Homo sapiens: one gene and its partner. The protein of the gene in region 2 purifies or fractionates together with the protein of the main gene of each other region. This does not show direct contact. Each region holds a gene or a part of one and is shown on either strand. Other genes may lie near its edges.

What was found.
Region 1: the proteins of CACUL1 (region 2) and DSG3 purify together in Homo sapiens (affinity purification with mass spectrometry; one large-scale study listed by BioGRID and IntAct). This does not show direct contact.

Annotation. Positions count from the first base shown.
Region 1 is NC_000018.10:31,446,546-31,450,807, reverse strand, and holds the start of DSG3 (desmoglein-3 preproprotein), read right to left. Parts: upstream 3,068-4,262; 5' UTR 2,931-3,067; coding exon 2,883-2,930; intron 1-2,882. UniProt on the Homo sapiens protein: A component of desmosome cell-cell junctions which are required for positive regulation of cellular adhesion. Required for adherens and desmosome junction assembly in response to mechanical force in keratinocytes.
Region 2 is NC_000010.11:118,752,022-118,756,530, forward strand, and holds the start of CACUL1 (CDK2-associated and cullin domain-containing protein 1), read right to left. Parts: upstream 2,950-4,509; 5' UTR 2,742-2,949; coding exon 2,375-2,741; intron 1-2,374.

The DNA of each region.
Region 1 (4,262 bases), on a different chromosome or scaffold from region 2:
CTCACAGCACTTTTTAATTGTTTTGCATGCATTGCTGCTTTATTCTCACTATGACCATTTTCATTAGGCAGGGGGTGGGGTGTGATTCTTATTTGACAGTTGAGGAAACAAAGCCTGTAGTGAGTCAGTGGCATAGCCAGAGATTTAAGTCTATGACTTTGCTATTATTTCTCACTGTTCTGGGCAACCCATGTATGGTCATTGGATGGTGGATTATTACAAAACCTTCAAACACATCTGCCAACTTTCAGAACCCACCCTGCAACAACAAAAAATGAGCATTCCCACTTGAGAATGCTTTAGAAAACATTGCTTTTCCCCCCCATGACCACATTATTTCAAAACTCTGGGTGGCTCCCCACTTGTAAAAGGTTTCCATGAGCCTTCACAAAATGCACTTTTCAATCTGACCCTCAGCTGCCTTTCCAATTCATGTCCAGATTCTCCAAAGCAAACTGTCATGCTAGTCATACTGGTGTGTCCATTTCCCCTAGGCAAATCCTAACTGTGCCTGCCTTTGATTATACTCTTCTGACAACCCAAGAGATCTCCTTTTGGCCCGTCCATCTATACTTATCCCAAATCAGCTCAAATTTCACTGAATCCATAAAGACTTGATTGCCTCTCTCCTGACTGACACTGCCTTCTATCAATAGCATTAATAGTAGACCAGTACTGTCCAATAGAAAGCTAAAAACCACAAATGCGAACCACATATAATTAAAAAATTTAGTCACATTTAAAACGTTTTTAAAAGGTGAAATGCATTTTAACAATACGGTTAACTTAATCTAATACATCCAAAATACTATCATTTCAACATGTAATCAACATAAAAAATTATTGACATATTTTACATTCTTTTGTTCATTCAAAGTCTTCTTCAAATTATGATGTATATTTTATATTAAATAGCACACCTCAACTCAGACCAACCACATTTCAAGTGGCTTAAAACCACATGTGGCTGGTGGCTACCATATGGGACAGAGTAGGTCTAGACCACTCAGTTGAACAATTATGTATGAAGTTATACTGTTGTTTAAACAGCATGTGTATGTAAAATTTTCTTGAGTGGAACCAAATACATGTCATTTCATAGTTTCCTTTATGACTAGAATTATAGGGACATTGTGCGGGGGTTTTTTAGTTTAGAGAAGGCTCATTAAATCATTCATTTACTCATTCTTCAAACAATTGCATGTCCACTCTAAGACAGATATAATAAGCATTGAGAATATAAAAATAAAAATTAGCCTCAATATAAGGATGTCACAGTCACTCCAGAATCAGAGGAGTAATTGAGAGTGTCCTATATGTCAAATTAGAAAAAAAAAAGAATCCCCCTTAGCTTATGGTGGCCCAATCCTATGTCCTCATGGCAATACTATCCCGACAGCCCATGCTGCATGGCCCCTAACTTCCTGAGCTTTGCCATTGGCTTGGACATAGGGGTTATCAGACCACCTGGGGTTCAGCCCAGACATTTCCCATCTGGAAAGGTGGGAAAGTCATACAACTGTCACATTTCTCTTTAACAACATCCTCCTTTCAAATAAAATCAGGTACTGAACACAGTTACATTGTCGTAATAGAAATAGAATCTTAGAGGCTGGGTGCAGTGGCTCACATCTGCAATCCCAGCATTATGGGAGGCCGAGGTGGACGGATCCATTGAGGCTAGGAGTTTGAGACTAGACTGGTCAACATGGCAAAACCCCATCTCTACTAACAATACAAAAAAATTAGCTGGCTGTGGTGGTGCACGCCTGTAATCTCAGCTACTCAGGAGGCTGAGGCACGAGAATCACTTGAACCCCAGAGGCAGAAGTTGGAGATCGCACCACTGCACTCCAGCCTGGGCAACAGAGCCAGACCTTGTCTCAAAAACAAAAACAAAAACAAAAATCTTAGGGAGAGCTAAGAAAGTCCTTTCTTGAGATCTATCTCCCTGTGACTTCTTGAAGTCCATTTATCTCAATTTTTTTCATGAAGAAATGAGGTAAATTGATGCCTAGGCCAACCCAGCTTATCATGGAAACCATACAAATTAGCATTAGGAATTGTTTTGACATTCATTTTTAAGGTATATTTAACTATTTTGATATCTCCGTGTAACAGATAATATTGTGACTTTTCTTTTTTTTTTTTTGCTATAAGAACACAGTTAAGGAGTAAGTTAGTCTGTAACATCCAGGTTTTAAACAGTCTGTAACATTCCGTTTCTCTTTTAGATAATACTATGTACGACTTTCTCAATCAACAGAAGTATTACTTTTCTGAAAAAAATGGCTTTAAAATGTTGTATGTCTTTCCCCCCATCCCCAAAGGCTGACATTTTCTTTTGGCACATAATAGCTAAACATAAATACTTACTTAATAATCCTCCCAACTTCTCTAGAGTCAAACACTGCTTTGATTTTAATTCTGCGATTTTTTACTTTTAAAAGCGTGTCAGGTATCAAGCCCAGGCGTGTAGAGTTCTTAGCTATATGCTAAGAGACATGTAATCTTGGAAAATAGAAGTGGCTCCTGTGTTCTTGTTTGTGGGTTAGAAAAACTAGTAAAAGCATAACTTTAAAGAAAGTGAAAATGTTGTGGAAAATATAACCTGTGATTAAGATTACTTAATTCATTAACTAAAAAAAATTCTAAATGGTTTTTAAAACTCATTTCTTTCTGGTTTATTTTTCTATGTAAAATACAACATAAAAAACAACAAAAGAAGGAAATTGGTAATCTTCACGATTTCATTTCAAAGTGTTGATTTCCACTGCACTCCTTTTAGAATTTATAATAAAGATTGTGCAATCAAATATAATATTCTTTAACAAGGGAGGAAGCAGGGAAGTTTGTGATTATTAGGAAAATCCAGGACTTACCACGAAGATGGCCAGAGCCCCTGTAGTTCTGGGGAAGAGCCCCATCATTGTCTCTGATTTCCCTGGTGAAAAAGTCCAAGTGAGCCGCTGCTTCTATCCTGCCAGCCGTCTGCAGTTGATGTCTAAGAAAAGCCCTCTGCAGCGTCTCTGCTGCTTTCCGAAGGAGTCTACAGATGGTCTGTTATGCGGTCCCTCCCCACCCTAAACCAAGGGTAGGTCTCACCAGAAACGCTTGCATCACCTTTGCTCCCAGGTAAAAACTTAGCCACACCTCGATTCCTAAAGCAATGAAATCCTTTGTTGGAAGCTGAAAGAAAAGTTCACAGGCTAAAGACAAAGTTTAATAGGAAGGTACCAGATGAATAATAAATTAATCATGATGTGGAAGTGCAAAAGCTAGTCCGGACTACACTTTGTCAGTGTTGATGTCTTATGGCTGAATCTAGTTGACTATGGTTACAATGAAAACCGAAAAGCAAAGCAAAACGTACAAAATCCCCCAAAATCTAACTTGTAAAAGAGCATTTATTTTCAGCCTGAGTATGTGTGGGTAGATCTAAAGTTAAGCAAAATGTAGATGTTAAGCAATGATATATTTTATTGAAAGGCACTAAAAATATGAAGAAGAAAAACATCCCATTAAGCAACTATGAATGTAGGCTTTGAATAAAAAAAAAAAAAGAAATAAAATTGAACAGTTATATGGTGCCTTGAATATTTGAAATATATAAATAATGCGTTGCAAAATTACTCTGATAATACTCAAATGACATCTTTTATACTGTATTTCTTTTCATTTATAACTTTCAAAAAAGCCTAGATTGCCTAATAAGGTAGATTATCTTGGTGCTCTTTTCATTACTCAAGACATTTTCCCCAGTGTGGTGAACCTGCTTGCTGTTACATACTCGGAAGTGCTTAAATACTTCGACTCTAACCCAAGATAAAGCAGAGGGGAAAAATTACCAGCCCCATTTTAGCTACTTTGCTTATAACATTAGAATTTAAAGTACTTTTTACAGTTTCAGAAATATTGAAAGAAAGGTTTGGTAGAAGAGCAATTTTATCTTTGCAAGTATTACACATTAGGTTTTAGAAACCACTTAATCACAGTTTTTTTTTTGAATCGGGGTCTCGCTCTGTCGCTCAGACTGGAGAGCAGTGGCGCGATCTCGGCTCACTGCAACCTCTGCCTCCCGGGTTCAAGCAATTCTCCTGAATTGAGGAGGCTGTCTCCTGCCTCAGGCTCCCGAGTAGTACAGAAAATGAAACATTATTCTTATTTATTTATTTATTTATTTACTTACTTACTTACTTGAGACTGCGTCTCTTTGTGTTGCCCAGGCCGGAGTGCAATGGCGCGATCTCGGCTCACTGCAA
Region 2 (4,509 bases):
CTTAAATCCAGCAATCCTGCTAAACTCTTACTAGTTCTAAGTTTTCTCTGGATTTTAATGGTTCATCTAGGTAGGTGATCATATTATCTGCAAATAATAACTTTTATTGCTTCCCTTACAATCTTTATACCTTATTTTTTTGCTCCTTATAATGTTAGCCAGGACCTTCCTACAATGCTAAACAGTAGTAATGACAGGAGCATCCTTATCTTGTTACGGATCTTAAAGTATATGTATCTAAAATTTCTCCATTAAGTATTATTATTTACTGAAGGTTTTTGGTAATGACCTTTATCTAGTTATCTTGTACTCCTAGGTTACCAAGAGTTTTTATCATAAATAGCTGCTGGATCTAGTTGAATGATTTCAGGGCACCAATTGAGATAATCGTAATTTTTTTCCTTTAGTCTATTAAAGAGCTAAATTAGATAAGTAGATGTTAAACCATGCTTTCATCTCTAGGACTAACTCTATGGATCAGGACTCTGTAACACACTGTTGGATTTGATGAGCGAGTATTTATTCTGCAGTATTTTCATTTCTATGCTAAGTAAAACAGACCTATAATTTTCTCTTCTTACATGTCCTTATCTGTTTTAGAATCAAGATTTCACAAGCCTCATAAAATGAACTTGGTATTTTTTCTATTTTCCAGTGCAACTTGCAAAAAGAATTAAGTGTTAAAGTATGGTGGAACTCATCAGCGTATCTGGATGCAGAGCTTCTAAAAAGGGAGATCTTTACCATTTCAGTTTATTAGTTCAAGATATTTCTTCTGATACCAATTTTCACATTTACTAGTTTTCTAAGAACTATATTTTTCATTTAGGCTTTCAAATTCATCAGCCTAAGTTCATAACGTTCTTTTTTTAATCTGATATTTGTAGTTATTTTCCATTTTTCATTTATTTGCATCTTTTTTTCTTGTCGTTTTTATCAGAGGTCTGTCTGCCTAGCTTACTCATCTTTTCACAAAAATAATCTTTTGGTGTGACAAATCCTTTTGTTCTCAATTTTACTGATTTCTGTTCCTAACTTTATGCTCTTTTTTGAACTCTTCAAAGGAACTTTACTAAGGCAATCTTCCTTCGTGACTCAGGTGAAGTCATTCTGCCACTCTACAGGAGGTCTGGTTCCACAACACAGCCTTCAACACACAAACTATACAATATAAACATGATTATCATGAATAAGGAGAAAAAGCGTATATAATCTTACCAAACGTACATATCAATGTCTTTGACTAAGGCAGTATCTTGGGGCAAATAAAATTACGCGCTGTTCCCACACACAGTGTGTAAGATTCCGACTATCTGCATCAAGGCAAATATTTTCTCTGCACAGCTAACTGGACAAGTACAGCTTCATAAAATTAGTAGCTAGAAATGAACTCTCCAGTTGCTTTACCAGATGCCACTCAAAACTTGCAGTTAATAATAGGAGAGAAAAACCTGGCTGTGATGGTCACAATCATTTTCAACATCCTATCACCACCACCACCGCCACGCACACATACACACAAACCAAAGTAAAAGCACATTCTTTTCCTAGCTATGGAAGCATACATATATCCTGGTCAGAGGCAGTTTCGGATTACAAAACAGATTTTGGTCTTAAATCTTAATGCGTGCAATTGAGCGTTAAGACAGACTACTAACATAAAGTTCAACATGCAACCCAATCTTGGGTTTGGACACAAGACATAACCCATCCTGAAAGGCTTATTCTTATGAGTGTAAGCTCTGAAAAGTGATTTTATGCATTATTAGCTTCAAGACGATGTCGGAGCTGCCACTGCATCGGAAAGCAACTCATTATTTCCCTAGCAGGATGCAAAAGTGTAACACAGTAGAGAAGGAACAAGGTGTAGATATAGGTCAACTTTCAAATTCCTTACTTGTTTAACACAGCCTGGCCAAAAACACAAGAACACAAGTTGCCAGATTTCTTTTCTCTCTCTGGCTGCAGAAGACTGAAGGCCTTTCCCTAACGAGACTCAGGCAGCCTTATTTTCCCCTCACTTTGAGGGTGAAACTTCAAGAGAAGACGGGTGCGAAAAGAGCTTCCCAATGTTGAGAGACTGCCAGTTGTGATAGGGATCGCACTGACCGAACTTGGGGCTCCGTGTGTACCAGGCTGCCTCTCTAGGCCAGGTAATACAAGAAGCCAGGGCCGCTCAGGCGCTGGCCGCAGACACCAAATGAGGGGGAGGGGACGGTGAGGGGGAAGGAGGCAGGGAGGCGAAGGCGGACGGGGAGAAGAGGAAAGACCGAGGCCTGAAACAAAGGAAGCGGAGCTTTCTCCAAGAGGGGGTGGATTCGGCGTCCGAGTGAGGTGGAGAAAAGCCAAGGCTGCAGGGAAAGGCTGGACTCACAGAACTTGGAGGTGGAGGTGTTGATGTTGATGGTGGAGCTGGCGGTGGGGGCGGGGGCCGCCTTGGCCACGGCGGCGGCCGCGTCGCAGCTCTTCAACATCATGATCACCCCATTAGCCTCCGGCGGTGGCTGCGGCCCCATCGGGAGCCCCTCCTTGGGGCCTTTCCTGTCCACGGAGACCGCGGGCACCGCCAGCAGCTGCCCCCCCGGAGGCTCTCGGGCAGGGGCCGGGATCGACGAGGGGGGCGGCGGAGGTGGCAGGGGCTGCCGGAAGCCGTCCACCGCAGCCTCCCAGTTGTTGTGGTTCTGGTCGTCCATCATCGCCTCGTAGCTGCCCCCCTCCTCCTCTTCCATGCTTTCCTCCATCCTGCTGGCCCCCGGCACCCGCCCGCCTCACAGGCACCTGCCGCCTGTCTCAACCCCGGGCCAGCGGGCACCGCTGCCTCCCCGAGTTACATCGCCGGCGGCAGGAATGGGCGCAGCGGAGAGGGCTGCGGTGCGCAGGGTCTCTCGCTCTCCGCGGGGCCGACTAGCTTGAAGACGCGGCTGACGGCGGTGGGCGCTCCGGGGCTCTAGTCTGGGAGAGGCAGCCGTAAAGCAGCGGCGCTCCTCACGACGTTTTACAGCGGCTTCCAACAGGCAGTTGGAAAGGGCAGCTGGGGGCGCGGCCAGGAGGGCACGTGGTGCGAGGGACTGGCCGCGAGAAAGCGGAGCCAAAAGGGGCGGGAGCTGTGAGTCACTCCCACGCAACAGGGCAGAGGTTCGCCCCGCCTCGGCTGGCAGGGAGCTAACAGGGGAGGCGCGACGGGTCGGGACGGGCATTCGCCGGCCCCGCCCCCTGCCCGGCCTCACGTGACAAAGGTGTGTCTTGCGCACGCGCGTTCGCAATCTGGTTACCATGACGACGAGGCCCTCGCCGGTTCCTGAGGACGCGCGCGGAGCAGTCTTGGCAGTAGCTGTGGACTGGCCAGAGTGATTGGAGGTGTTTTCCTCGCGTCCTCCAAGTCTACGGGGCCTTCGCACCTCTGAGTGCCTGAGAGCCCCGGCTTTTGCTTGGGACGGAGGTACGGGACCACAAGAGGCCCCGGGGTCGCAGGTTATAAACGGATGAGACCGCCCTGGGCGGCCCGTGGTCCGACTGCTCTTGGGTCGGTCCCCAGCCGTCGCGACACACACGCACAAAATCGAGAATAAAAACCGAATCACACATAGCAGGATGGCGCAAAAAAGAAATGCGTTTGAGTTACTCATGTGTTTTTAAAATTCCTTTACGTTTGTATGCACTAAGGCCAGCAACCCAACTTTTAAAAATGCCGGCTCAGGCCGGGCGCGGTGGCTTACTCCTGTAATCCCAGCACTTTGGGAGGCTGAGGCGGGCGGATCACGAGGTCAGGAAATCGACACTATTCTGGCTAACACGGGAAACCCCGTTTCTACTAAAAATACAAAAAAGTTAGCCGGGCGTGGTGGCACGTGCCTGTTGTCCCAGCTAGCTGCTCGGGAGGCTGAGGCAGAATTGCTTGAACCCGGGAGGCAGAGGTTGCAGTGAGCCGAAATCGCGCCACTGCACTCCAGCCTGGGCAACAGAGCGAGACTCCATCTCAAAAAAAAAAAAAAAATGCGAGCTGGGCGCAGTGGCTCACGCCTGTAATTCAACCACTTGAGGAGACAGAGATGGGAGGCCCGCTTGTGCCCAGGAATTCGAGACCAGCCAGACCAGCATAACAAGACCACGCCTCTAAAAACAAAATTAGCCTGGCATGGTGGCGTGTGCCTGTGGTCCCAGCTACTCTGGAGGCTTAGGTGGATCACTTGAGCCCTGGAGGTCAAGGCTGCAGTGAGCCGAGATCGCGCAACTGCACTCCAGCCTGGGTGACAGAGTGAGACTGTCTCCAAAAAAAAAAAGAGAATTAAGTGGTATGCTGAAGGGGAAAACATAAAACCTTAGAATTACATGTGTGGCAAAAAGAGAGGCAGAAGGAAGGCAAATTCTGTTTCAAACAACTAATGGTTTATCATCAACAGACTCTAGGTAGATGGCTGGGTGAGTGCGATGGGATAAAGAAGGGTCTTTACATTTAAAAAAAAAGTCCAATATACAGGGAAGATAGAGTCAAAAAAGTGTCTCTAACAT